7 linked regions of the Homo sapiens genome follow. The protein of the gene in region 4 interacts with the protein of the main gene of each other region in a pairwise test. Each region holds a gene or a part of one and is shown on either strand. Other genes may lie near its edges. The genes, in order: HEMGN, CYLC2, MSANTD3, MLH3, FBP2, CDC14B and AOPEP.

Region 1 (3,979 bases), on a different chromosome or scaffold from region 4:
TCTAGACCTGGCACAGCTCCTCGTCTGTGCAGCCTGCAGGTGGATGCTGTATATGGCTTGATTATCAAATACATTATTTTGTGTAAAGAATTCTAAGTTGCTACAGTATATATCAAATGAGGTATACTGTAAGGGGTCAAAAGCTGCAAAAGCACTTCTTGAAGTTAAGAAGTCAGGTAGATAGGCATGAGTGGCCATATTATACCTATTCCTAATTAATAAATTAAAGATCTAGAAGATGAAAGGATATGCATGGTAATTGCAGCCAGTGACAAATTGTTAGGCACTGCAAATACAACCAAATACAGATGGCTAATACAGATGGGCTGGGGGCTGGGGGCTGGGGGAAGTACTATAAATAAGCATTTCATCATTTTTCTAAATCTACTGAAATTCTGTTTCATGCTACCCGCTCCATGGAGCCTTCTCTAAGAGACTACAGGACTAAAATGCTCTCCCAGCTTAGCACTCCTATAGGACTTATTGGGTGTACCATGCTAAAGGCAAGGAATGTAGGCTGCCTCATACTGTAGTTATTTCTGAAGAAACTGTATTTCTTTTAGTAAACATTTTAGACAGTCTTTGGAGATAAAAACCAGTGTTTTTTACATCTTTATAGTGCCCATCGTTCCTTGCATATTTAAAAAAAGTATACCCTGTTCCATTTTTTGTGTATGTTTGAAATTTCCGTTGTAAAAAAGTGTTTTTAAAAGATTACCTCACCAAACACAGTTTGAAGTCAATACCAAAAAAGTATATATGTTCACTTCTAATATGAGGCTATAGAAAAAAAGAAAAAAAGGTATAGATGTAACAGAGCAGTCTAAAATAATATTGAAAATTATATTTAAAAAAGGAAATCTAGGCCGGGTGCGTTGGCTCACGCCTGTAATCCCAGCACTCTGGGAGGCCGAGGCTGGTGGATCACGAGATCAGGAGTTCAAGACCAGCCTGGCCAACATAGTGAAACCCCGTCTCTACTAAAAATACAAAAATTAGCCAGGCATGGTGGTGCGCGTCTGTAATCCCAGCTACTTGGGAGGCTGAGGCAAGAGAATCGCTTGAACCCAGGAGATGGAGGTTGCAGTGAGCTGAGATTGTGCCACTGCACTCCAGCCTGGGTGACAGAATGAGACTCTGTCTCAAAAAAAAAAAAAAAAAGGAAATCTAAAGATGATGGTTATGGCACCTCAGCATTTTGAACTATTACTACAAGTAACCAAGGTGACAAGATAAATCATAAAATTCTGATAAATTTTTTGAAAAAGATATTAATAGTAATCCAAGTTCCTTAGGAAACACATATTTTTTCCTAGATATTAAATCCTAAAGAAGTTGTTATTTAAATCTCTGTATGAGGAGATCTGAGTAATGTAATAGTCCATGTCTTCCCAGGTAGTTTTTCAAAAAATGCAAAAAATACCTATGTGGCCTAAACTTTAGTCTGTACTCTCTCATGGTTGTGGGCAAGTCACTTAACCTCTACATGCCTTGGTTTCCTTGTAAGTGAAATGAGGTAAATAATATCGGCCCAATTTCATGTGGTGGTTATAAGAATTATATATAATAACTTACATGAATGAATTATTCAAATATAAATTAGGACTCATATGAATACAGGAAACACTTATAGTGCTTGTATATGTCAGGCACCGTTTAAATAATTTAGTTATTTTGTTATCTCATATAATCTTCACATCAGTCTATGAAGTAGGTAGTTATTATTTTCATTTTGCAAATGACAAAACTGAAACACAGAGATGTTGAGTAACTTGCCCAACACTTGTATTTGATAATCAAGCCATATACATTATCCACCTGCAGGCTGCACAGATAAGGAGCCGTGCCTGGATTGCAGGTCTAGAAACCCTGAGTATGAGTTTACTCAGGGGTAGTGAAGTAATACACACAGACTAAATGCAAAGAGACTAGTATATAAACCAGAGTGCCAATCTATTCGTTTATAATGAGAATTATTTATTTTCCATAATATTTCCAAGGGCTCTGGCTACCAAGTAGGGGAGCCAGGCTACGAATCTAGTCATTCTGGCTTTAACAGCCAGGCTCATAACCATGCACTCTGCTGCCTCTCTCTGAAACTAATAAAGTTTCACTGTATGGTGTGTTGTAGTGAGAAAAGAGGGCACAGGCCTTAGCATTATAGAGATGTATCACCAGAGCAAGTCCAGCCAGCTGCCAAGAGGCTCACTAAGGTGTTATCCATTTGAGTGAATACCCTCAGCCCAGCAAGCCCAGAAACCTGATTCTGTTAGCACACTGAGACTACCTCCATTTATCAGGGGCAGAGCTCATCAAGCAGATTTAAGGAGACTGACATATAAACCTAAAGACCAATTTTTAAATGAACAGACATACAAAGTCACATAGTAGAAAATACCTGGACTGGCTGGGCACAGTGGCTCACGCCTGTAATCCCAGCACTTTGGGAGGCCAAGGTGGGCGAATCACTTGAAGCCAGGAGTTCCAGACCAGCCTGGCCATCATGGCGAAACCCCGTCTCTACTAAAAAATACAAAAACTAGCTGGGCGTGGTGGCCAGTGCCTGTATTCCCAGCTACTTGGGAGCTGAGGCAGGAGAGTCACTTGAACCTGGGAGGCAGAGGTTGCAGTGAGCCGAGATTGTGCCACTGCACTCCAGCCTGGGCAGCAGAGTGAGACTCTGTCTCAAAACGAGTGAATGAATGAATGAATGAGAGAAAGAGAAAAAAGAAAAGGAGAGGAGAGGGGAGGAGAGAGGAGGGGATGGGGGAGAGGAGGGGGAGGGGAGGGGAGGGGGGAGGGGAGGGGAGGAGAATACCTGGGTTCTGGGCTCCCAAACAAATGCACCGTCTCTGTAGATAAGTACTTGGGAAGCCAAGTAATGATTGGAAGATTGCTTAGTGGTATGGAATTTGGGAGCTAATTGGATAATCTTCAATAGACCTGCCACAGGACCCTAATACAAATATTTCTACTGTAAAATGATACACGTGTTCCTAAAAAAACCTCACTTTCTGCAAAATCATCCTCTATAAAGTTACAGTGGTTATGGAGGTGGGGCAAATAGGCTTGGGACAAATGATTCAAAACCCTTGCAACATTTTAACACTAACTAAAACAATAATTGGTACCAGGAGAGAGAACTTGGATGGTCTAGACAAGCAGTTTACTGTGGCTGGAGGCTGCCTCAGGGGATAGTAAATGCAAATATAGTGTAATTGCAGGCTTGAAGCTGCTGAGACCTGAGCTCTGAGCCAGCGGGGTTGCCGTTAAGTTGGGCACAGGAGGGAAGTGCAAGCTGCCACTTGATGGAGAGCTGCGCAAGGCTGGTGTTGTGCCTCTCTGAGGAGGGAACCCTGGATGCTGGCTGAAAAGAATCCTGCTTATACAACAGCCAAGCTGAAGGCTTTTTCTTTCCAGCTGAAAGCTTTAATTCTCTTCCCACTATTCTGCTTTCTTCTGACTAGGAAAAAATCATGAACCAACACAACCCCCACATTATACTGACATCATTCTCCTATTTATCAATCGTATGTGAACTTGGTGTTATAGAAACATCTGTTGTAGCAGAACAGACAGTGCTCAGTCCACAGCGGGGTTTGGGGATTGGAAAATGCCCTTTCTTAGGAAGAGTGCTTTGCTTAAATTAGTGGTTCTCAACTGGGGATGATTTTGCCTGTCTTCCCCCAACCCCACCCCAGAAGACTTTTGACAATGTTTGGAGACATTTTGTTGTCACAGCTGGGGTGGAAGGTGCTGTTGGCATCTAGAGGCCAGAAAATGCTACAAAACATCTGCAGTGCACAAGCCAGCCCCCCACACAACAGGAAGTTCTCCTGCCCCCAGTGTCAGCAGTGCCAAGGTGGAGACACTTTGGCTTAGATGGATGCTGCACTTTTGGCTCTTTGGGCTCCCCTTCCAAGCAAGCAAGTCCCCAGTTTCCACAATCATATTTGAAATGGATGCAATTAGATGTCGC
Region 2 (3,979 bases), on a different chromosome or scaffold from region 4:
TTTACCACCTTTTAAAAATTATTTAATTCTTTGAGGCCTCTTGTTTTCTCACAAATTCAGCTGCAGACTACCACTATTGTTTCATCAAATATGCTTTTGAATTATTCTTTCGGTTCAAATTCTTATCCAAGGCCTACTTGCCCTTCTTCTTTGCATCCTTCTTTTCATCCTTCTTTGCATTCTTCTTTGCATCCTTCTTTGCATCCTTCTTAGCATTTTTCTTTGCATCCTTCTTTGAATCAGCAGATTCTTTCTCAGTATCTTTCTTGGCAACTTTCTTGGCATCTTTCGTGGCGTCCTTCTTAGACTCTTTCTTGACATCATCCTTTGAGTCACTGTCTGTACTACTGGGCTTCTTCTTATCTTTCTTACCTTTTTTAATCTCCTTTGCATCTTTCTTGGCATCCTTCGATTCATCACCTTTGTTTGCATCTTTTTTTCCATCCTCATCCTTCTTTTCATCTGCTTTTACAGCTTGTAATTCTATGGCTGAATCCTTGCCCTTCTTTGAATCCTTTTTACCTTTTTTGCTATCTTTCTCTGTACCTCCTTTTTCACCTTCAGATTCTGTTGCCGAGTCTTTGCCTTTGTTTGAATCCTTTTTATCTTTTTTGTTATCTTTCTTTGCACCTCCTTTTTCATCTTCAGATTCTGTTGCTGAGTCTTTGCCCTTCTCTGCATCCTTTTTACCTTTTTTGCTATCTTTCTTTGCATCTAGCTTTTCTTCTTTTCCTTTCTCTATATCCTTGCCTTTCTTTGAATCTTTTTTTCCTTGTTTTAATTCTGATTCCGAATCTGTTGTGTCCTTCTGTGTTGTCTTGTCTTCACCTTTCTTACCAATTTCTGGGGATAAATATTCAAATATTTCTTAAAATGGGAAAATCCAAACTTGATAAAATTCTAATAGAAATCTAATCAGAAAATTACAGAGATACTATAAAAACAGTAAGTTATCTCTACCTGCTGCTTTAGAATCCACCTCGACAGTACGAGTTGGTTTGAGAGGCTGCCTCCTGGCAGCTAAATAAACAGATGGTCTCTCAGAAATTCTCATTAAAGAACGGTACATCCATAATGGTTGTCTACGATCTCCTCTTAATTGTTCTTCATCAATTATCTGAAAGATGGTTACAATAATGATGAACAACTTGTGAGTGAATAACACAGTTTGTATTAATATATCCCAAATATATTTTAATTTCAACCATAAAAAGATTTTAGCTTTTGTTAAAAAATGGGGAAGTTTGAGATTTCATCCTTTATTTTGCTTTTTTATTGTCATCCTTTTTTTAAACTAGTGAATAATCATGCCTCATTTGGAGCTTACTTTCAGTTTATAGGATCTTCATAGCTCCCTCGGGATTTTAGGTTCAAATTGGTAGACTCATGGCATATCTTCACAATCATAGGAGGCTTTTTAAACTGTATGTTCTTGAGAATTCTTGGAATATCTTGCTCACCTTCTATTTCTAGGTAAATCAGAAACTATTCTCTAATATCTAATAGTTTCAGATTGAGGCATATCTTAGTCTATTTTCATTTTCAGAGTCTCTGGAATTTAGAATGCTACTCATGGTTAAAGATAAAAGCCTGAAACTCCTATTGCTTGGCAGATATAAATTGAGTATGATCAGATTGGTAACTGAAATAATGAAATCTACAACAGGGAATGTTAATTTGAGAGAAATTATGCATTTTGTTTTCAACTTCTAATTAAATATGTACAAAACTGAATGGCAAAAATAGCTAATCTCTGTACAAATATTAACAAAAATGGAAAAATAAATTCAGCAAGAAAAAAAGAACTTTGTTCACTACTAATGGGTTACATTTTTAAAAATAAACAAGTTAATGATACATTTATTTTGTGAAAACTTTTCTTTGAGCATATGCTTATCCCATGTTGACTCCAGAAATATTGCGAAATATTTATTTTCCAATACTCTGAGTCCTGAATTCTATATTACAGAACTGAGGAAGTATTAAAGGTATAGTGTAATCCCATGACTCAAATGAGGGATTTCTCCAGCTGTAGAACATTTCCTGAATGTTCACACTAACTCTAACATCAGGAACTCCATAATTTTGTGCTCCTTGGAAACAATTTTTACAATGTGTGGTTACTGAAAAAAATAGTTAATATGAAATAAAGGGGCAACTGTATACAGTAAAATGCAAATAAAACATATCTATTTTCTTTAAGTGGTAGACTTTGAATTATCTCTAACTGTGCTGTTCAGTAGGGCATTTCATAGCCACATGTGAATTTACTTTAATTCAATGTAATTTAAATGTAAAATTCAATTCCTTAGTTGCACTAGCCTCATTTCAAGTATTTAATAGCCTCATTGGACTACGGAGATAAATATTCCCATCATTGCAGAAACTTGTTGGTCAGCTTTGATCTATAACACATACAACTATACATGATTTCACAAGCTTACTACTTAGTGATTACTTAAGACTAATTATAATTACTTATTATGGTTATAATTATTACTAAGTTATTACTTATTACTGATAATTATAAAATCTTTCCAATGCTTACAGAAACCGTGTTGTCCCGTATTTGAGAAGGTTTTGATCTCCTTTTGGTTCCTGGCCGTTGTGGTTTGGGAAATAACAGGGCAAAGTGTTGCTGATTCCATGATTTTTTGCTTAATTCACTGACTAAAATAAGGGAGACAAAAAACACATTTTGGAGTGAATAGAATTCCATCAGAGCTGAAATGGCATTACGTGCAACGTATATCATGTAAATGAATAAACAAGTGATTCAAATTATGACTTCATTTATTTGGTAATGTTTGCAATTTTCTGTTATCAATATGAGAAAATAAAAATTGATTTTTCTATTTTGAGCAGTTTTACAGATGACTGTATAAAGTAGTCATTGCAAAACTAGCATAACTATAATATAAATGGAAAGACTCAGTTTTACTGCTTCCTTTTAAATCTATCTCTTCCAGTCTAGGTTTTTGCTTTATGCTTTTGGTTAGTATACAATTTTATTATAACAGAAAATAACTACTTCTGTAGCTCCCATAGTACTTAGCACAATGCCAGCATAAATATTCAGTAAATACATGATTTAATCTAAGTGCTAAGACTTAAGATCCCCTTAGTTAGTAACAACTTTCCAAGCTACAAGAGTAAATGCAGCCAGGCGCGGTGGCTCACGCCTGTAATCCCAGCACTTTGGGAAGCCGAGGTGGGCTGATCACGAGGTCAGGAGATCGAGACCATCCTGGCTAACACGGTGAAACCCCGTCTCTACTAAAAACCAGGTGTGGTGGCAGGCGCCTGTAGTCTCAGCTACTCAGGAGGCTGAGGCAGGAGAATGGTGTGAACCCAGGAGGCAGAGCTTGCAGTGAGCCCAGATCATGCCACTGCACTCCAGCTTGAGCGACAGAGCAAGACTCTGTCTCAAAAAAAAAAAAAAAAAAAAAAAAAAGGGGGCAAATGCTATACACCCAAGAATGGTATCGTTATAGGTGACATATTTTGTAAAGGAAAATGACAAAAAGCCTACAGAATGGTGACTGGGTAGGTGAAGTCATCTGAAAACTATAATACAAATGATTAAAGTTATTTAAGTTGCCAATGAGGCCAATGAGAGATTTCATCTTTGTATTTAGACACATGCAGCATTAATGTGTGGAAATAATAGACATTTCCTATGAGTTTTCTAAAGAAAATAGGAACAATGGGAAAAATGTACAGAAAAAAATTATATTTAGGCTCAGTATCTGAGGGGAAAATACTTGATATTTGAAGTTCTTCAAAATCAAATACCTTTGCCTTGTCTAGTAAAGAAATTTGGGGCCAATTATAAGCTGGTTATAATCTATCAGGAATGTTGTAGAAGAAATTCCTGACATAAACAAGAAGTTATTTATCCAATTTCTACATTGCTTTTCAACTGTAAGATTATCTGATTGTATGACTTCTAACATGTAACTATTTCCGGCTTTCATAT
Region 3 (3,979 bases), on a different chromosome or scaffold from region 4:
CCAAAGGTTCCTTATGGATTTTCAACAGCCTTGTGAAATAGGCTGTTTATCTCCCTTAACCAATTACCATTCCCATTTCCCAGATAAGAAAACTGTGGCTCAGTAACTTACTCTGGTCACAAAATAGTAAGTGGTCTGACTTACTCCAATGCTCATGCTCCTCTCTGCTCTGCTTAGCTCTCTTGTTTCAGACCTAGTGATAGCCTCTATTCCCCTCCTCAAAGTATGGGCATTAACACTCTAATCATCAGCCGGGAAAGGGCCCAGGGTAGGGCAATTTAGGTGGAGTGTGTCTCCATCTGTTGGCTCTTCCCCCACTCATTTCCCTCCCTCCATCACCTCCTCTCGATTTCAAACTTAGGGCCCATAATCCTCCCACGTGTACCTTCCTCACTCTAACCAGAGCTCTGAAATAATTTCCGCCCTTGATCCAGTAAGACTGTATGTTTGGGCCAGGCATGGTGGTTCACACCTGTAATCCCAGCACTTTGGGAGGCCGAGGCAGGTGGATCACCTGAGGTCAGGAGTTCAAGACCAGCCTGGCCAATAAGGCGAAACCCCATCTCTACTAAAAATAAAAAAATTAGCCAGGCGTGGTAGCAGGTGCCTGTAATCCCAGCTACTCAGGAGGCTGAGGCAGGAGAATCATTTGAACCTGGGAGGCGGAGGTTGCAGTGAGCCAAAGTCGAGCCATTGCACTCCAGCCTGGGCAACAGAGTGAGACTCTGTCTCAAAAAGACTGTATGTTTGAAAGGTAACTGTGGAGATCTTTTGGAGCTTTAACATGGTCCATGCCTCCGGGGAATGCTGGCATTCCGCTTGAGCACAAAAACAAATACTTCCCAAAGAGGTCTCTCCAGCAAAGCTTATTAATGCTTATTAATAGAAACTTTGAGGCTAGAAAGGATACTCTTGTTTAAAACTATTCATCAATTGTCCATAATTGTTTATAAATGACAACATAAAAAGCGTTCCCTGCCGCATCAACTTTTATTAGGGATAGACTGGACTTCCCTGTCCCCAATTCTGCTCAGGAGCCATTATCTCTTGTGTCTGCTGTTCTGCTAGACAGTATATGATCCATTCTTATGCATGGTTGTAGGGCAACAAGCAGCCCAGTGACCCTCACAAAGTAGGCGCTCAGTAAACATTTCATAAATGCAGATATTTTGATATAGGCATAAAACAGCCCACCATGCACACAGCATCATACATGACAAAACAGTACACTAAAGGCTGCATTAGCTGGGTATGGTGGTGTGCCTGTAGTCCCAGCTCCTTGGGAGGCTGAGGCAGGGTGATCACTTGGGCCAAGGAGTTAGAGGCTACAGTGAGCTATGATTGTGCCTGTGAACAGTCACCCCACTTCAGCCTGGACAACACAGTGAGACCCCATCTCTTAATGAAAAAAAGCTGCATTAAAGTAGAAATGGTCAAATAAAATAGCAAAATCCAGATGCAACAGAAGTTCCCCTTGGGCTAGGCAAAGACCCATAGATAGGCCTAAATTAAAAGGCACAATTCCAACACCCATAGAAGAACAAGAAGGAAACAATTAGCACAATTTCCAAAACACTAACATTGACTAAACCACCAGAATACTGTAATGCATACATTTACTATCCAACTTAAAACAAAAATTCATCTGTTTATGGACTAAATGTCTGTGTCCTCCCAAGATCCATATGTTGAAGCCCTAATTCCCTAGTGGTTGTATTTGGGGACTGGGCATCTGAGGAAGCAATTAAGGTTAAATAAGGACATAAGTATGGGGCCCTGGTCCAGTGGGGTTAGTGCCTTGATAAGTAGAGACACCAGGAAGCTGGCGTGCCCTGCTACCCTCAATGGCTTACAAAGAGGAGGTCATGTAAGAACACAGCAAGATGGCACACAGCAAGATGGCCACCACCTACAAGCCAACAGAAGAGATCTCAGGATGAAATCTAACTTGCCAACACCTTGATCTTGGCCTTCTCAGCCTCTAGAACTGCAAGAATCCAATTTCTGTTGTTTCAACCACACAATCTGTGGTATTTTATTATGGTAGCCTGAGAAGACTAATATACCATCTAGTGATTTTTAAGTCCACCAAGGGTGAAACTAAGTCCTAAAGTTTGAGCAAAGACAGAGAAACTTGTCAAGATTTCACATCTCTTGCTCTTTGTGGAAAGGGGAGTTCTTTGAAGTTAATACTCAGAATGGGTACCATGACTGAAGAGCTATGGCACTGGAAAATCAGACTTCAGGACATTAATAGACTGCTGATCTTAAAGTGAGGTGAAATGAACCAAGACACTGGATGCAGAAAACCCGGGCTCAAATCCTGACTTTACCCCTCACCCAACCGTGTGACTTTGGGCAAGTCAATCAACCTCTAATGCTTCATCTGTGAAATGGAGTTACTCCCCCGCTATCCCGGCCCTGCCTCATTCCCTCTGCGCAAAAGTCCTGCAACGTGAATAAAGAAACACAGACTACAGCTTCAATCAATTTTAGTTCTTTCTACTCTTCCCACCCATATTAAACTGCTTCCAAAAGTAGAATAATACTGTGTGTGTGCGCACGTGTGTGTGTGTGTGTGTGTATGGTGTGTGTGTATATATAACAAGTTATTGGCTCTTTATTTCATACACACACAATTCAACAAATATGTAATGAACTCCTGCCAAAGGCTCAGCACTGTTCTAGAGTATGTGGGAGATACAAGGACAGGCTGAACCCTCCAGCCTAGAAAGAGCGCTGACATGCACAAACTGACAACTAAAATGAGAGGCACGCTGAAACAGACACCAGAAGAGAGGACAAAGCACCTTGAGCATGAAGAAGAGGGAAGAGGTTCACTTGCATTCTTCATGAACAAGAGGACATTTGAGCTAGATCTTTAAGAATGTATAGGATATGAATGGAGAGAGTTGAAGAAGATCATCAGATAAATAATTGATAAGAGAAGGCCTGGACTCTGAGTGGGGACAATGTTATTGGAAAGGAGGAAGTATACACCAAAGACTGTTTCTTTCTTTTTTGAGAGACAGAGTCTAGCTCTGTCGCCCAGGCTGGAGTAGAGTGGCGTGATCTCGGCTCACTGCAACCTCCGCCTCCTGGGTTCAAACAATACTCCTGCTTCAGCTTCCCAAGTAGCTAGGATTACAGGCACCCATCACCACACTCAGCTGATTTTTGTACTTTTAGAAAAGATGGGGTTTCACTCTATGTTGGCCAGGCTGATCTCAAACTCCTGACCTCAGGTGATCAGCCTGCCTCAGCCTCCCAGTGTTGGGATTAGGATTACAGGTGTGAGCCACCACACCCAGCCAAAGACTGTTTCAAAGGAAGAAATGAGCAGGATGTATATGTGTCCACAGTAGGGTAGGGGATCAACAGAAAGCAGAGGCAGGTAGGATATATGAGGATTAACCAAACACCTACTTTGTGCAGGCATCAGAGAGAATGGTATTCCTTAAGATCAAGGAGATCACAGACCTATGAGGACATCAGAGTCCCATGAAGACATAATGCACATGTATTGTGGGATAGGCTGGTGACGAGACAGTGTGATAAGCACAGTGACAGAGATGAGCCTAGGGACATACTCCAAAACTGGGGGGATCTAGAACAGGAACCTTAACTCCTACTTGAATAGACTGAAATTAGATTAGCTTGAGGACAAAGCAGGGCCACAACTCGGGAGGTAAAGACTTAACATATTCAGAAGTGGTGGGTGAACTGAAGGACACGTGGCAGCCCTCCCTACAAGCAAGGCCTGGAAAGTAATGGGCAATCCGTTTGCTCTAAAGAAAGGCTGTCTCCTACCCTAGTATCTTGCCTGTCTCCTGACTCAACATCTCAAAAATAACCTTTGTTTTAAACTACAAAGGACCTTGGCCAGGTGTGGTGATCACCATCTGTAATCACAGAACTTTGGGCCTAAGGCAGGAGGATTGCTTGAGCCCAGGGGTTCAAGACCAGCCTAGGCAACAAT
Region 4 (3,979 bases):
CTATATAGCCTTGAACTTCTGGCCTCAAGTGATCCTCCCACCTCAGCCTCCTGAGTAGCTGAGACTATAAGTGCATGCCACTGTACCCATCTTGAAACTCAAAGTTTAAAATAACAGGCAAAGAAAGGCTGGGCGTGATGGCTCACACCTGTAATCCCAGGACTTTGGGAGGCTGAGGCGGGCAGATCACCTGAGGTTGGGAGTTAGAGACCAGCCTGACCAATATGGAGAAACCCCATCTCTACTAAAAATACAAAATTCGCTGGGCGTGGTGGCAGGTGCCTGTAATCCCAGCTGCTCGAGAGACTGAGGCAGGAGAATTGCTTGAACCTGGGAAGCGAAGGTTACGTGAGCCGAGATCATGCCATTGCATTTCAGTCTGGGCAACAGGAGCAAAACTCCATCTCAAAATTTAAAAAATAAGAAGAAGAAGAAGAAAAAAAAAAGGCAAAGAAAAACTGCTACAGACCCACCTCTGGATAACGGGCAAATACTGGATTGTCCCATTCTGAGAACAAAGACTGAAGCGATTCGCTACTAACAGTATCATCCACAGTATCTAGGGCAAAAGGGAACAGGTAAAGTTGGCATCCAGAACCACAGGGAAAGGAGGGAATGGCATTTCCTGTTTGGTGAGCCATAGCCTCAAGACCAAAGGTCACGTACATTGTTTCTATGTTCTACAAATGTTCAGTGTTTGCTGTATCTCTAAATTATTTTGATCTGTTACTTTTTAAACTAGAGTTGGTGACTGTATCTTCTGGCATTACAGCTTTTCTCCAAACTGTTAAAAGAGATATTGTGGAATACTGACAGAGAAGCTATGGCTCAAATTTATAGCCTTACTGCCTTTAAGCAAAATATACCTTATCTATTTTTAAACATACACACAAAATTGATGTCTGTAGCTTTTTTTGAAGAGTTTTGCTTACATAAAACTACAGCAACTTGGAGTGCAAGTCCAGCCTTTTTAAAAATAAGAAACATGTCCCCTAATCACAAGACACCACAGACTATGCATAATCAGCAAATATTGACCTCAAGTCTGGAAAAGTAATTTCTGACCTAAATGCATGCGCTGAATTAATTAGTTCCGCTGTTAAACAGGGCCGTGGGGAATTCCTGATTCCAGTACAGCACAGCTGGCACTGATCAAGCTTAATGCAAGCCTGCTTTGTTTTTTGAGTTAGGTGGTACGATGTGTACTGTGTGCCCCAGCACTCTCTGCCACCCTTACCTCTGTTATCCTGTCTCATCACAGTCCTCTCTGCTCGAGCTCTCGGAAGGAAAGGAAGAACAAGGTCGCTTCTAAAAGGTTGACACCTGTACTGAGACCCTAAATATAAGAAAGAAAAACCTAGAAATGTGAACTTAAAATACAAGTAAACTCTTTAAAAATTTAATCACATAAAACCTCTTTCTGCACAAACTGAGTCAAGACATAAAGCAGACTACTAAACACTAGATTGAGAATCAGAAATCCTTTAATGAAATTATGCTGTCCATATAGGACTCTATATTAATGCTTAGTTCCATTATCTATTCATACCAGACAGAATGAAGACCTAGAATAGGTCACTGTGATTCTCACTGGGGGGCAATTTTGCACGAGGGGACATTGGCAATGTCTTGAGACCCTTTTTTTTTTTTTTGAGACGGCGTCTCGCTCTGTCGCCCGGGCTGGAGTACAGTGGCGTGATCTCGGCTTACTGCAACTTCCGCCTCCCGGGTTCAAGCAATTCTCCTGCCTCAGCCTCCCGAGTAGCTGGGATTACAGGCATGCGTCACCACACCCGGCTAATTTTTTTGTATTTTTAGTAGACATGGGGTTTCACCATATTGGCCGGGCTGGTCTCAAACTCTTGACCTTGTGATCCACCCGCCTCGGCCTCCCAAAGTGTTGGGATTACAGGCGTGAGCCACTGTGCCCGGCTTGAGACACTTTTCATTGTCACAACTTGAGTAAAGGGTTCTACGTTCTACTAGCATCTAGCAGATAAAGGCCACGGATGCTGCTAAATATTCTACAATGCATAGGACAAACCTTACAACAAAAAATTACCCAGAGAAGCCCTGTGTTAGACATACAGCAGTACTTGTCAGCCATAACTTGGTGCAACCTTCACAAATCTCCAACTTATGTCTCTTATCTCCAATGTATGTCTCTATCCTAACATTTGTCTCATTATAATACAATTATATTTAGATAGCTATCTTCCCTAATAGTACTGTGAACTCCTAAAAGCAAAGTCAGTTAACCTGCAACGTGACAGCACCTAGCACAGTGTGGATGATCAACAAATGCTGCATGAAAAAGTGAACAGGTAGACAAATGAAAGGTTCTCAATTCAAACTCCAGAGTCTAGTAAGATCTGGCCCAAATGCTGTTCTTCTCCATGAAGGATAATCAGATTTGAGTTTTAGAAACAATGCTGAATTTGACAGCTTTAGAACAGGAGGAAAACATGAGAGATAAATCTGTTGGACTAAACCTGGAGAGGTTAAGAATGATAAAATTAAGATAATGAAGTGAAATAAGGTTTATAACTACAATAGAAAGAACTGCATAAAATATATTTTAAAGAAAAAATTACCAAGGCTTGGGGACTTGACACTACTCCTCAAAATCACCTTTATAGATCCTCCTTCTGTACATTAAAATGTATCTTTTAGGCTGGTGGCTCACGCCTGTAATCCCAGCACTTTGGGAGGCCGAGGCGGGCAGATCACCTGAGGTTGGGAGTTTGAGACCAGCCTGACCAACATGGAGAAATCCCGTCTCTACTAAAAATACAAAATTAGCCAGGCATGGTGGCGCATGCCTGTAATTCCAGCTACTCAGGAGGCTGAGGCAGGAGAATCGCTTGAACTCAGAAGGCGGAGGTTGCAGTGAGCCGAGATCGCACCATTTCACTTTAGCCTGGGCAACAAGAGCGAAACTCCGTCTCAAAAAAAAAAAATTGTCTTTTAACAATTTATTTCATGTAACACTTTTATGTAAAGTTTGACAATGTCCTGATGTCATGATGTATATCAGCCATTTCCAGAAAGGTAGCAGGGTACTGAGGAGCCATCTGTTCATGGAACTTCTTTCTATACCAAAAATATTTTTCATTAGGAAACTATCAGTTAACATGACCCTCAAAAGTTCATAAAAAAGTATGCTAATCCAGAATGTTAAGTAGGTTAAAGTGTTTTAAACGTCTATATTCAAAAGGAAGAAATATTTACGTTGAATATGGCAGCTAAGATTTCCCCCTTTCTTTTAGCAACAGCCATCTCACAGTATAATGTAATCCAGTTATTTTTTGGCACCATATCAGAAGCAGTTGCATTTCAGGAAGATGAGGTGTCAGTGCTGTAGATTTACCTCTGAAAAGCCTTCAGTGTAAGTCAGGACATAAAACCACATAGATTGAAAAGCACATAAAGTGGCTTTAAGAGCAACTTGATAGTCTCAGGAACAACAGTGAAAGAAATGAGTTTTCTCCTAATGAATACTACAAAATACTATGAAATACTACTGAAGTTACTACAGTGATTTTTTTTTCACAAGGAAAAACAGAAAAACACTGAAAAGTAAAGGTTTCATTTAACCTTAAAGAAACCACAGCTTTCTGCTAGAGATATTCATCGTCAGGAGAAATTAGAAATTGACTTATAACTACATTTATACATGTTCCATTCTTCTGCAGCATTCAAAATTTTAAATACGGATACAGATGTAATGTTTATCCTCCTAGTGCAAAGCCAAGATTATAGCCAGATGGAAATCAGCTTTATCACCTCCCAACATCTGGCTCTCAACACACTGCCAAAGCAATATCACTTTAAATGTGGACCGAGAACCCAGAGTCCTAGTGCAGGCTCTAATGTAGCCCTGTGGTACGATCTAAAAGCTATATTGGTTGGGTGCAGTGGCTCACGCCTATAATCCCACCACTTTGGGAGGCCGAGGCAGGTGGATCACCTGAGGTCA
Region 5 (3,979 bases), on a different chromosome or scaffold from region 4:
GTTAAGAAATAGAGGAGAATCCCGGGAATTAAAGAAAAGTAAGGCAGCTTATTTCCGGCTCAGTATCATCATCTACTGGCGAGCGGGCACCGCAGCCCCATGACGCACCCGCTTCTCCTTGGCGGTGATGATGGCGTCCTTATTCTCTTCTGAGACCAGGACGCAGGTACTATAGGAGGATTGGACCATGTTGATCACCAGGGAATTGGATAGCACATCCAGTTTCTTCACCTCATCTCCCGTCACGTTAACGCTTCCTGCGATTCCATACCTGAGAAGACAAAAGGCTGAATGAGGAAGTCACTAGGGGGTCTTAACTCCAGCAAAGAGCCTGGGACCCTAAAACGCCAGCAGTGCAGTCCCCTCTCGTTCTGTGTCTCTGGAGTCTCCAAGTCACACGTGCAGAAGAAGGCGATTATGCCTGGCAGGATACCTCTCAGCCTTGCCTCCCTTACACCTTGGAGTCGTTGTCATATTTTCTTAGCCTTCCAATGAGATGACCCAGGACTCAGTCTCACTAAAACACAAACCCAGTCTCAGCACGAGGAGATGGAGCAGATGGGGGGACTCATCAAATCAGACCCATTGCCATAACTGAGGACTCCAAAAGTAAAGGACTGTGGCCTCCAGCTCCTGGAATTTGTTTTTTCTTTTTTCCTTTTTTTTTTGAAACGGAGTCTTGCTCTGTCGCCCAGGCTGGAGTGCAGTGGCACGAACTCTGCTCACTGCAAGCTCCGCCTCCTGGGCTCACGCCGTTCTCCTGCCTCAGCCTCCGGAGTAGCTGGGACTACAGGCGCCCGCCACCACGCCCGGCTAATTTTTTTCTGTATTTTTAGTAGAGACGGGGTTTCACCATGTTAGCCAGGATGGTCTTGATCTCCTGACCTGGTGATCCACCCGCCTCAGCCTCCCAAAGTGCTGGGATTACAGGCATGAGCCACCATGCCCGGCCAAGCCCTGGAATTTCAAGTCTTTGTGGATTGTCCTCACACAGTGCCCTGCTGGAATGAATTAAAATTGCCCTGTGGTAGCTTGGTGTTACTTGAACTGAGAAGGAAATGTGGGGGCAGACTTATTTCATTTTTTTCTTCACTGCCATCCCAAGCAGTATAAGAGAGTGCTACTACGAGAATTCTATGCCAGTCAGGGCCAGGGCCTCGTGCCTGTAATCCCAGCACTGTGGGAGGCCAAGGCGTGTAGGTCGCTTGAGCCCAGGAGTTCAAGACCAGTCTGGGCAACACAGTGAGACCCTGTCTTTACAAAAAAATACAAAAATTAGCTGGATGTGGTGGCACACACCTGTAGTCCCAGCTACTTTGGAGGCTGAGATGAAAGGATCATCTAAGCCTGGGGAGGTGGAGGTTGCAGTGAGCTGTGATCACGCCACTGCACTGCAGCCTGAGCGATGGAGGGAGACCCTCAAAATAATTCTATCTAGAGGCTTTGGGTTTTAGAGCATTCATATGCAAAGGTCTCCCCACTTCCACCCTCGCCCCTTCAGGGGGTTCTCAACACACCAGCAGGAGGGGTCCTCCTAAAGTGCCCCCAGTCTTACCCAGAGGCAAAATCCAAGTCCCCGCAAGTGGGTGTCAGGCACCACCGTGGAATCTCTGCGCCCGGGTTGGCATGGCTGCCCGTCTCTCTCATCCTCACAGGGTCAGCCCCAGCCTCTGAAACCTCCAAGGCACACACCTGCCTTGTGACTGACTGCCCAGTGGCCTTGCTGCCCCACCTGGGACACTCTTCCTCAAGAGCCATGTGACGGCCACCCCAGTCAAGCTTTGGCTCAAGGATCATCTCTCAGTAGTGCCTTCTCTGGCCGTCTGTTTGGAGCAGCATTCCCTGGTCCCCAACATCTTACTCGATGCATTTTCTCCTCTGCCCTGACCACCATCTAGGTCCTGTTTATTGTCTGTGAGCTTCCACAATGGCAGGATTTTTTTTTCCATTCTGAGGGAAGCCGTATCCTTCATGTGTCCACCCTGCACCACTACAGCAAGGCTCAGCCACCCCGCCACCCTCTCACGTTCCAACAGCCGCAGATGTCCCTGGGCCAGCACCCAGCAAGCGGCTCTGGTCCTTCTCGCCTTCACTAATGGTGTTCCCACCACAGCAGTGCTCTCTGCCCGGCTTTCTTCCTGCTATTCCTCCTTTTCCTCTCTGGGACGCCTCCCTGGTCCTCTCAAGTGGGCCCCACACACCAGAAACACCCCATCATCCCTCCTCAGTGTTCACCACACTCACGGACTGGCTTCCTGCTGCATGACCTGCTTGCAGAGGGCAGGATCCATCCTTCTGTCTGTTTCTGCAGTGCCCAGACACACAGCCCATGCTCCATGTCTGCTCACTGAGTTATGAGGAAAGGATGGCAAGAAAGGAATTTCCTTTGCCTACTGATGTGAATGCTATTTATTTGTTGAAGGAAATCTCAGGTGGTTCTAACAGGTAGCCAGGGTTGAGAACCACTGATCTACCTTAAGCTGGGGGCAAACTCATTTCCCACCCTCTTCCCTGAACAGCACCCCCACCTCACCCCCCAACACCAACCCCCACCCACAGCACATCATTTGGTGTCTGAGGAACCATGACGTGAGCAGTCAGCTGTCTTGGAAAACACTCCTAGCAGCCTCACCCCAAAGACTGTGCCTCCTGGTCAAGACAAAAGCAAGCAAGCAACAGCAGCAACAAAACTAGGCTGACTGCATCTGAGTTTCAGGGGACCACAAACACAGGCCTTGGTTCGATATGGAATCTGAATGCGCTTGCCACTGGAGGATGAACAGCAGGCCCAGGCCTGCGGTGGGCAGAGCTGAGAAACAGCCTCTGTCCTGCGCTTTGCAAATGCCCCCTCATCCGCCTAACCCCACCCCTCAGCCGACCCCCTGCACCCTCTCTCCAGGCACTGGGCAGCACCCCTCCTCCTAGAAAGAATGGAAACTCACCAGGAGATGTGAGTTCCCGGCAATAGCTTCACCTGAGATGATGGGGGAAAGGGGCTCTCTAGCCCGTAGGACAGTATCTTGCAGTGTTCTGACTGACACTAAAGCTAACTAACAGTCTCTAAAGGAATGATCCCCCACGGCCATGAGAAAGCCAAGGAGAGGCTCCAGGCGGGCACTCCAGCCTCTCTTGTTCCCACCATAAGAAGAGGAAAGAGAAGGGGAAAAGGAGACTCTCATAACTTTTAAATTGCATTCACGGAGCCCTTGCTAGAAAGATCTCCCCAAAAGGAGCCAGGGGCTTGCGGTCCCCTGCCTGGGTGGTGGTGTGTCCGGAATTGGTAGGTTCTTGGTCTCACTGACTTCAAGAATGAAGCCGCGGACCCTCGCGGTGAGTGTTACAGCTCTTAAGGTGGCGCATCTGGAGTTGTTCGTTCCTCCCAGTGGGCTCGTGGTCTCACTGGGCTCAGAAGTGAAGCTGCAGATCTTCGCGGTGAGTGTTACAGATCATAAAAGCAGCGTGGACCCAAAGAGTGAGCAGCAGCAAGAGCGAAAGAACAAAGCCTCCACAGTGTGGAAAGAGACCCAAACGGGTTGCCGATGCTGGTTTAGGCAGCCTGCTTTTATTCTCTTATCTGGCCCACCCACATCCTGCTGATTGGTAGAGCCGAGTGGCCTGTTTTGTCAGGGCGCTGATTGGTGCGTTTACAATCCCTGAGCTACATACAAAGGTTCTCCACGTCCCCATCAGATTAGTTAGATACAGAGTTTCCACACACAGGTTCTCCAAGGCCCCACCAGAGCAGCTAGATACAGAGTGTCGATTGGTGCACTCACAAACCTTGAGCTAAACACAGGGTGCTGATTGGTGTATTTACAATCCCTGAGCTAGATATAAAGACTCTCCACGTCCCCACCAGACTCAGGAGCCCAGCTGGCTTCACCTAGTGGATCCCGCACCGGGGCTGCAGGTGGAGCTGCCTGCCAGTCCTGCGCCGTGCGCGCGCATTCCTCAGCCCTTGGGTGGTCGATGGGACTGA
Region 6 (3,979 bases), on a different chromosome or scaffold from region 4:
GCTGAAATAGGAAAAAATGGGCATTGTAGAATCAATGAATGACACTATCCCCAAATTTCTAAATACACTATAATAACTGAACTGGTGTGTGGGAACCTAAACAGTTCCCTGTGTCACCACACAGCTTCATGGAGGTGAAGACGTTTGTGGTGTGCCCCTGCTACCCCCCAGCCCAGACCCTCCAATCTCTACAGTAGTAACAGGGGAGTTACTTAGTGCCTATATTATTCATTAATAGCACACAAAGGCATCACTACAAAAGGAACAAATACCAACTAGTGTTTTTAGCAGTTTTGCTTACATAGACAAAGTAACTTGTTTCAAATGTTTAATGTTTTAAGGACAAGCGCAAAAAAGGTGTTAATAACTTAGCTATATTCTGTAAGTTTAAGGTGCTAGTTAAATGTACGTTGTACTTTAGAAATGGACTGCTATCAGAGAAGTAAAGACAGGGTTGGCCCTAATGAATCCTACAATGTATTCTTACATCTTTGGTACATCACAGAAACAACTGAGTGTCATTATTAACTGAAATTGAAAAAACAGTTCAGTTAAACGTAAGAGTTTGAAATAATATTTACTTTGGACGTTGTGAAAAAGAATTCTCTGAGGATTCAAGATGCTGCCACATGAAGTGCTGCTGTTTGAGGAATCATCTCCCCAGTGCTGGGGAGCAAGTCTGCTCAAGGTAACTACAGCAGGGTAAGAAGACAGGAGGCTACAACTACTCTGGGCTGAAAAGGGCTTTAGCACAGTATCTTACTCATTCCCTATTTGGAGGATAAAGCTGTAGAATCAAATTATTTATTCTTTTTAAAATATATATACTATGTTAAAAAACATAGAACACACCTGTGGTTTTGCCTGGCTTATCTCTCCCTGGCCCTGTCCTATGTTTTTAAGAAATTTTGTGTGGTTGGGTGCCGTGGCTTACATCTGTAATCCCAGCACTTTGGGAGACTGAGGCAGGTAGATCCCTTGAGTGCAGGAGTTTGTGACCAGGCTGGGAAACATGGCGAAATCCCATCTCTACAAAAAAATTACAAAATTAGCTGGGCATGGTGGCACGTGCCTGTAGTCCCCGTTACTGGGAGGCTGAGGTGGGAGGATCACTTGAACCTGGGAGAGAGAATGCAGTGAGCCAAGATCGCACCACTGCACTCCAGCCTGGGCAGCAGAGTGAGACCCTGTCTCTAAAAAAGAAAGAAAGAAAAATAAAATAAAATAAAACTGTTAGAAAATAAATTTTTTTTTGGTCCGGCTGGTTTGATGGGGCTGACCCTATGCCCCAGGCTCCTGGGATGGCCAGAGAACTAAGGCTGGCCAGAGTATTCCTTAGCCCTGCCCTGCCAAAGAACACAGGCTGGTGCAGAGATGGGCACATGACGTAAGTCAGGCCAGTGAGAGGCATTCCTGGGCCTTCTGATGGAGCTAAGATTACACTTTTCTGATCATTTTGCCAAACTGGCAGGTCAAAGTTGCTGGTGGCCATCTTTATCACTACTGGAGAAGGCTGGCCTGAGAATAAAACTAACTTCAAGTCCAATTTCTGATTAAGTGTCTGAGCACCTGAAGGGGCATGCTAGAAGCCAATCCTATTCCTGGACTTTTAATTTATGTAATCCAGTAAATTTTTCCCTTTTTTTTGAGACAGAATCTTGCTCTGTCACCCAGGCTGGAGTGCAGTGGGGTGATCTTGGCTCACGGCAACCTCTGCCTCCCGGGTTCAAGTGATTCTCCTGCCTCAGCCTCCTGAGTAGCTGGGACTACAGGCGCCCACCACCACGCCTGGCTAACTTTTTGTATTTTAGAGATGAGGTTTCACCATGTTGCCCAGGCTGATCTCAAACTCCTGAGCTCAGGCAATCTGCCCCTCTAGGCCTCCCAAAGTGCTAGGATTACAGGCATGAGCCACTGCGCCTGGCAGATTTTTCCTTTTTTATTTAAGCTATTTGTGTTTACTTTCTGTAACTTGCAACCAGAAGTGTCCTGACAAACCGAAGGTTATGGCAAAAACAAAGATATTTTCCAGAGATAATTAGGTGTATAATGACTATTCATCTCATCTTATTCTATGCTAAGGGTTTTAAAAGCATCTCAATCACTGTGTGACAGCCATCAATACTAAAATACATTTAAACTAAACAGTATAAAGAACACACGGGGCACACTCATTCACTCTAGAATTGTGCATCAAATGCAGAAATTCCCACTGAGAATTGGGACAGGAGAAATAGGGATAAGAAGATGAAGACTTGACTTTTTTTCACTCTATACACGTCTAAAACAAAACAAGAATATTGCTTCTGTAAGTGAAATGGGTGATTAAGAAAGCTAAAAACAGGGCCGTGCACAGTGGCACACATCTGTGATCCTAGCACTTTGGGAGGCCAAGGTGGGAGAAGTGCTTGAGGCCAGGAGTTCAACTCTAGCCTGGGCAACAAAGTGAAACCCCATCTCTACAAAAATAAAAATTAAAAAATTAGCCTGGCATGGTGGTACATACCTGTGATTCCAGCTACTTGGGAGGCTGAAGAGAGAGGATCATTTAATCCCAGAAGTTCAAGGCTGCAGTGAGCCATGTATACCACTGCACTTCAGCCTAGGTAACAGAGCGAGACTTGGTCTCTCTCTTTTTTTTTCAATTTAAAAAAAGAAAAATTAAAAACAGGCAGAGAAATTTTGGTCAGAGTACAAACCATCAGAGGATAAGTAAATTCTGGAGATCTAATGTGTGTACTGTATGCTTGAAATCTGCTAGAGTACATCTCAGGTATTCTCATCACACACGCCAAAAGACTAAATTATGTGAGGTGATGAATATGTTAATTAGCTTGATTAGGTAATCATTTCATGGTGTATACATATATCAAAACATTACTTTGTACATCTTAAGTATATATAAGTTTTATTTGTCAATTATTCCCCTCAATAAAGCTGGGCGGGGGGAGGAAGAGTTGAAAACATGATCCTTGAAGACTTACTTCATAGTGTTCATATTCATCAAGGTTAAATGAGTTGAAATTAAGGAAGCCATACTGCATTGCCTAAAATCCAAAAGAAAGCTTTTAAGAACAAGGATGCAAATAAGAAAACAGTTTCCTATCCAATTTCAGAATACTAAATATCAGGGGCCCCCCAAGAAAGTATTGTCATGATCAGATTACTTTCCACTGAACAGCTTTCAAAGGAAGTGGGCGGCGTCTTCTAAGTGCTTCTTTTATATGGAAATTAATTATAACTATATGTAATAAGTTTGTTGTGTTTTGTTTGGATTTTGTTTGTGAGATGTGCTTTTTTATTTTCATTCACCAGTCATCCTATCCATGTATTGTTAAATAATCACGCCCTGAAAGTAATCCTCTTCTCTTACCAGATCACTACCACCCCTGGCTGAAAATTCAGAAGTTTAGGATTCAAATATAATGCACAACCCAATGGTCTCTACATCGATAAGAAAGAGGAGAGAATCCATGTGCTAGTTTATCCCAAACAAAACCCTCATACTTCATCCATATCTTCATTTTCAAATTCTTCCGAACAGTCTTTAATCAATGTTCCCTAAAGTAAACAGCTCTGACATCAACACTAAAATCAAAACTTTTGAGGAAAAAAAAGATATTCTTTCCATAGGAATAAAACAAAAAAAATTTCTGTCCTATCCTATAGCCTTACTCTGTGTGATAGCAGGCAGAGTATGATAACCAAAATAAGCAGAGTGTCTATTTTCTGAGACAAGGACAAACAGACCTAGCAGCCTCTGAGAAATATCCTCCTGGCTGCTGATCCCTGAGCCAAACAGGAGGGAAGCAAGAATTGCTGATCCACAAGGTATTCTTGGTTCAAAGAGGGGGCTTTTGTACACCCAGTTTTCAAAAGTAAACTACTGAAATACAAATGTAAAATAAGAAGGCTAGAATATCAACTAAAAAGGTCTTCATTTTATATAGTTATTTAAACACTAATCCCAAGACTAAGT
Region 7 (4,690 bases), on a different chromosome or scaffold from region 4:
GAAAGGAGGTGAAACAAACCTTGTTTTAGCTATATGATCCAGCTATTTGCTTAGGCCCCAAATTTAAGAATTATTTTTGACACTTTTCTTTTCCTTATCTCCCTTATCTAAACTCATCTCCAAGTCTGTCACATCTACCTCAGAATTATTCCTGAAATTTGTCCATTTCTATCATTTCTTACCTGCTCATTGCAAAAGCAACTCTTCTCTTTGCATCCTTTTAAATTGTTTCTCAAAAGTTTCATGTATACACAGCAGCTAGCAGGGTGATGTTATAAAACTAGATCCTGTCACTTACGTGTTGATAACTCTTCACTAGTTTCCCCTTACACTTCGAATAAACTCGTATTCCTCACAGGAACCCAGAGAGTCTGTGCATGATGGGGACTCTCCTTGCCTTCTTGATCTCATCCTCTGTTCTTCCCATGACCTACTTTCTCACTTTCTCCAAGGCACCACATTCTGCCCCTTCCCTATTGCTTGCTCACATGTAGATTCTTCTCTTGGCTGTTCTTTCCTTAGCTCTCCACAGAGTTGGCTGCTTCTCAGTTTACTGAACCTCTTCAGAGGGCACTTTCTTGACATCTCAAATCAAAAGGTCACCTGTCTTCCTTTAATTTCTCAGCAACTTATTTTCCTTCTACTTTTTTTTTTTTTTTTGAGATGGAGTCTCGCTGTCGCCCAGGTTGGAGTGCAGTGGCGCGATCTCGGCTCACTGCAGGCTCCGCCCCCCGGGGTTCCCGCCATTCTCCTGCCTCAGCCTCCCGAGTAGCTGGGACTACAGGCGCCCACCACCTCGCCCGGCTAATTTTTTGTATTTTTAGTAGAGACGGGGTTTCACCGTGTTAGCCAGGATGGTCTCGATCTCCTGACTTTGTGATCCGCCTGCCTCGGCCTCCCAAAGTGCTGGGATTACAAGCGTGAGCCACCGCGCCCGGCCTTTCCTTCTACATTTAATGTTTGCTTTCTCAACTAGAAAGTAATCCCCATGAGGGAAGGCACAGCGTCTGTCTTGTTCCTGGTTGTTTCCCCAGCTTTTGTTAAGGGTGCTTGCCTGGCACACAGGAGGACCTTAAATTGTGGTGGAATTAATATGTGAACAATAGTCACATGCAGCAGAGGTGAGACTAGGCTAAGGAATAAAATTGCACATCTGTATTTCAGTAACTTTTTTTAAATTTTATTTGAAACAGGGTCTTGCTCTGTGGCTCAGGGTGGAGTGTAGTGGCACGTTCATAGCTCATTGCAGCCTCGAACTCCTGGACCTAAGCAATCCTCCTGCCTCAGCCTCCATAGTAGCTGGACCACAGGTGCACGCCACCACACTCGGCTAATTTTTTAATTTTTTTGTAGAGACGGGGCCTCCCCAGGTTGCCCAGGCTGGTGATTTTTTTCTTAAGCTTCATAAAGATTTTGCAATTAGGAATACTAGGGTACCAGGGCAACTCTACAAGCCCTAGCCAGCCAAGCTGCTCGCGCCCTCCTATGACCGCGGCAGCTCCGCGCCTGCGCAGATCTCCCCCGGGCGGTCTCGCCCTCTCATCCTAAGGGGGCGGGCCTAGCGGAAGGCGGGTCAGGCAGAATGCGGCCCCGGGCGCGTGTGGATGACGTCACCCGGCGCGTGCCGGGGTAGCCCGTAGTAACCCCGAGTCTGCGGAAGTGGTGACCCGTGGGACGCGGCTGAGACAGGTAACCTGTTCGCTCCCTGTTGGGTCCCTGCCTTCCTCTCCTCCGGCGTCGGGATGGCGGCGGGGACAGCATCATTCCGTTCTGAAGGCGACGGGGAACCCTCCCTTACCCTCACTTTTGCTCGACCAGCGAGGACCCGCATCCCCTCCTCAGTTCTCCCAGACTCCTGGGGCTGAAACCCATCCTGGGGACTGGGCGGAGCGGTCACATCTTACCACCTCAGCTGTAGAGGTGGCCACGGGCTCTGGCTGTCTTCTCCCCGGCGGCACAGACCTTTCTCAGCCTCTGGGTGCCTCCTCCTTCGTCTCTTGCCTCCAGGCCCTCGGTCACCTGCCGGTCTCGGCTTCTAGCCCCACAGGGCTCATCTCCAGTCTTAAGTAGGCAGAACAGTTTCGATTCGATTCATTTCCACTTGCAGTGAAACCCATCCGCCTCTTCTTCCCCCGGAGGATCTTTACTGAGAGCACCACATTTTGAGTTTTGGGGTCCCTATAGAACATTCATACTGTTAGTCTGGAGTTTTGTTCATGAACGCATGCATGGGCGGGGAGGGGGTGGCACAGTAATGTGATTATGATTATCTATTGTGATAATAAAATATCCACTTAGGATCCAATCCACTGTTGAGATGCATGGAACAGTTAATAGCATTGCATAAAATGCCCCTTGTACCTGATTTCTTTTTGGTTTTCGTGCAATGATGACAATTACCCTTGCAAAGGTAGCCCTCAAAATAAGTAACATAACCCGCTAGGGATGTTTAGATCGCAAAAAAACAACAATAAGGTTCATATGGTTGATAAAGAAATAATATGGGTTATTACAAAACCAGACAGAATAGATGCTGAGTATATGGGACGAGAAGCAGAATTCTGAAATCCTTGATCTCATTGATTGTTTGGTTTTGTATTTTTAAAATACTTTTAGTCTGTTCCATTTTTGAATAGTGTATATTGTGCTTCGTATAAGTCTGGGAAGCCTTCCAATGACTTGCTAATTGGGAAGATTAGATTCTTCCAATATTTGGGGGACAAAGTAGAATAAGGTTAGGGTATAATAATAGTTGCTTACTGTTGGCCCATCTGCTTTATCCCAGGTACTGTGTTCAACACTTTGCATATGTTTTCTCCTTACTTCATACAACCACCTCGTGAGTTAGGAATTATTACCCCCAATTTATAGAGAAGGAAATTGAGTTTCGGTTATATGAAATTGACTTGCTAAAAATTCACAGTTAACTAAATGGCAAAATCAAGATTTAAATTCAGGTCTGAATATAACTTCAAAGCCTGCACTTTTCTTAAAGGACTCTACTAATGCTCAAATTTTAGGCTTTTTACAATAGTTGCACACAATTTTATGAGTTTGTTCACCTACACAAATGATTTAACACTTTTTAATATCTTTAATACTGTGTTAAGTTCCCATATTCCTGGAGTTAAAACACCTGGAAAGCTTAATTTGTGATCCTTCCTGCGTGCGCGCATGCACACACACACACACACACACACACACACACACCATCCTTATTTTTAAGAATGAGATAAATGGCAAACAAGATTGTGCAGTAAAACCCTGCTGTTTGGAGTCCTCAGGGAATGGGTAATTTTACAGTTGAGAGCTTAATACTTCTTTAGAAATGAAAATTTTATTGACTCTTTGAGATGGAAATTTTAAAAATGTACTACACAATTTCTTGCCTTCTTAAACACTCAGGATGCCGAGTAGATTTTTGACCTCACTGTGCCCGGTCGAGGACAGTTCTTCTAAGGAATTTGGCTGTGAGGAGATAAAGAAGAGTTAGAGGGAGATGTGGACTTAAGGGAGGGTTTTGTTCATTTGTGGGTTTTTCCTGTAAGAAGAGACTGGAACATTCACATTTGTGAGGTGGAAAGGGCTTGGAAACAGGAAGATGCTGAGGTCAAGGATTTAGAGGGCTGGATGATTGATGAAGCAAGGTCCCAGAGGCCACCAAAAGACGATCTCCAGAGCAGAGGCCACCTTCAGGCTATGCGGGGCACGAGGGACACTTCTTCCACTCTCCTGGGAGGGATGGGGAGAAGGGTGGGCACAGACGTGAGTGAGTGTGTGGGATGAGGAAGAAATGTGTGGAAGTTCTTGTGTGATGGAGCAAAAGTTCTTAAGTGCAGCAGGTGAATTTGCTGACATTGCGTTGATTTGTTGGGATAGGGATTGAGGAAAGTTGGTAGAAGTTTAGAATAATCACTGAGGGAAAAGGACAGGGTTTGATGGGGAGACTAGAGAGAAACATGAAGGGTTGCCTGTCCAGGAAAGTTGGTGTCCCACCAAAGTTGGAGTCTATGAATATCTAGAGTCAGATATTCTTGTGATCGTGATATTTATTCAGCTTTTGTTGAGCTTAGTAGTTTAGAAGTACAGAAGGTGGATGATTCCATTGCTTAAAGGTTTGGTTTTATAAAAGTTCTGTCAGAAGGATGAAAGAGCAAGAGACTTGAGGTTAAAATGTTCCAAGAGTGTTTGAAGAAATGAACTATGTTATTCTAAAGATGTCCATAGAGGCTGGGGGCACTGTGGCTCACTCATCCCAGCACCTTGGGAGCCCAAGGCAGGAGGATCCCTTGAGCCCAGGAGTTCAAGACCAGCCTGGGCAACATGATGAAATCCTGCCACTACGAAAAATACAAAAATTAGCCAGGCATGATGGCATATGCCTGTAGTCTCAGGTACTTGGGGGAGGCTGAGATGGAAGGATTAGCTTGAGCCCAGCAGGTCGAGGCTGCAGTGAGCTGTGGTGGCGCCACTGCACTCCAGCCTGGGAGACACAGTGATGAGACACTGTCTTTAAAAAAAAAAAAAAAAGAAAGAAAAGAAGACCATAGAGCAGGGAGTCTCTACTTCTGAAACATTTATAATTCTCTGCTGTGGGGGGCTGTCCTGTGCATTGTAGGATGTTAGCAGTATCTCTGGTCTCTGCCTATTAGATGCCTGTAGCAGACCTCTCCAGTGTGATAATCAAAAA

The links.
Region 1: the proteins of MLH3 (region 4) and HEMGN interact in a two-hybrid assay, tested with the Homo sapiens proteins (one large-scale study listed by BioGRID and IntAct).
Region 2: the proteins of MLH3 (region 4) and CYLC2 interact in a two-hybrid assay, tested with the Homo sapiens proteins (one large-scale study listed by BioGRID and IntAct).
Region 3: the proteins of MLH3 (region 4) and MSANTD3 interact in a two-hybrid assay, tested with the Homo sapiens proteins (one large-scale study listed by BioGRID and IntAct).
Region 5: the proteins of MLH3 (region 4) and FBP2 interact in a two-hybrid assay, tested with the Homo sapiens proteins (one large-scale study listed by BioGRID and IntAct).
Region 6: the proteins of MLH3 (region 4) and CDC14B interact in a two-hybrid assay, tested with the Homo sapiens proteins (one large-scale study listed by BioGRID and IntAct).
Region 7: the proteins of MLH3 (region 4) and AOPEP interact in a two-hybrid assay, tested with the Homo sapiens proteins (one large-scale study listed by BioGRID and IntAct).

The regions. Positions count from the first base shown.
Region 1 is NC_000009.12:97,931,660-97,935,638, forward strand, and holds part of HEMGN (hemogen), read right to left. Parts: intron 1-3,979. UniProt on the Homo sapiens protein: Regulates the proliferation and differentiation of hematopoietic cells. Overexpression block the TPA-induced megakaryocytic differentiation in the K562 cell model. May also prevent cell apoptosis through the activation of the nuclear factor-kappa B (NF-kB).
Region 2 is NC_000009.12:103,001,833-103,005,811, reverse strand, and holds part of CYLC2 (cylicin-2), read right to left. Parts: intron 2,671-3,979; coding exon 2,549-2,670; intron 1,118-2,548; coding exon 961-1,117; intron 844-960; coding exon 134-843; 3' UTR 1-133. UniProt on the Homo sapiens protein: Plays a role in the establishment of normal sperm morphology during spermatogenesis. It is required for acrosome attachment to the nuclear envelope, and proper manchette elongation and disassembly.
Region 3 is NC_000009.12:100,433,576-100,437,554, reverse strand, and holds part of MSANTD3 (myb/SANT-like DNA-binding domain-containing protein 3), read right to left. Parts: intron 1-3,979.
Region 4 is NC_000014.9:75,041,142-75,045,120, forward strand, and holds part of MLH3 (DNA mismatch repair protein Mlh3), read right to left. Parts: intron 1,337-3,979; coding exon 1,238-1,336; intron 560-1,237; coding exon 474-559; intron 1-473. UniProt on the Homo sapiens protein: Probably involved in the repair of mismatches in DNA.
Region 5 is NC_000009.12:94,587,199-94,591,177, forward strand, and holds part of FBP2 (fructose-1,6-bisphosphatase isozyme 2), read right to left. Parts: intron 272-3,979; coding exon 109-271; intron 1-108.
Region 6 is NC_000009.12:96,536,094-96,540,072, forward strand, and holds part of CDC14B (dual specificity protein phosphatase CDC14B), read right to left. Parts: intron 3,048-3,979; coding exon 2,985-3,047; intron 956-2,984; exon of another isoform or gene 853-955; intron 1-852.
Region 7 is NC_000009.12:94,725,063-94,729,752, forward strand, and holds the start of AOPEP (aminopeptidase O), read left to right. Parts: upstream 1-1,636; 5' UTR 1,637-1,689; intron 1,690-4,690. UniProt on the Homo sapiens protein: Aminopeptidase which catalyzes the hydrolysis of amino acid residues from the N-terminus of peptide or protein substrates.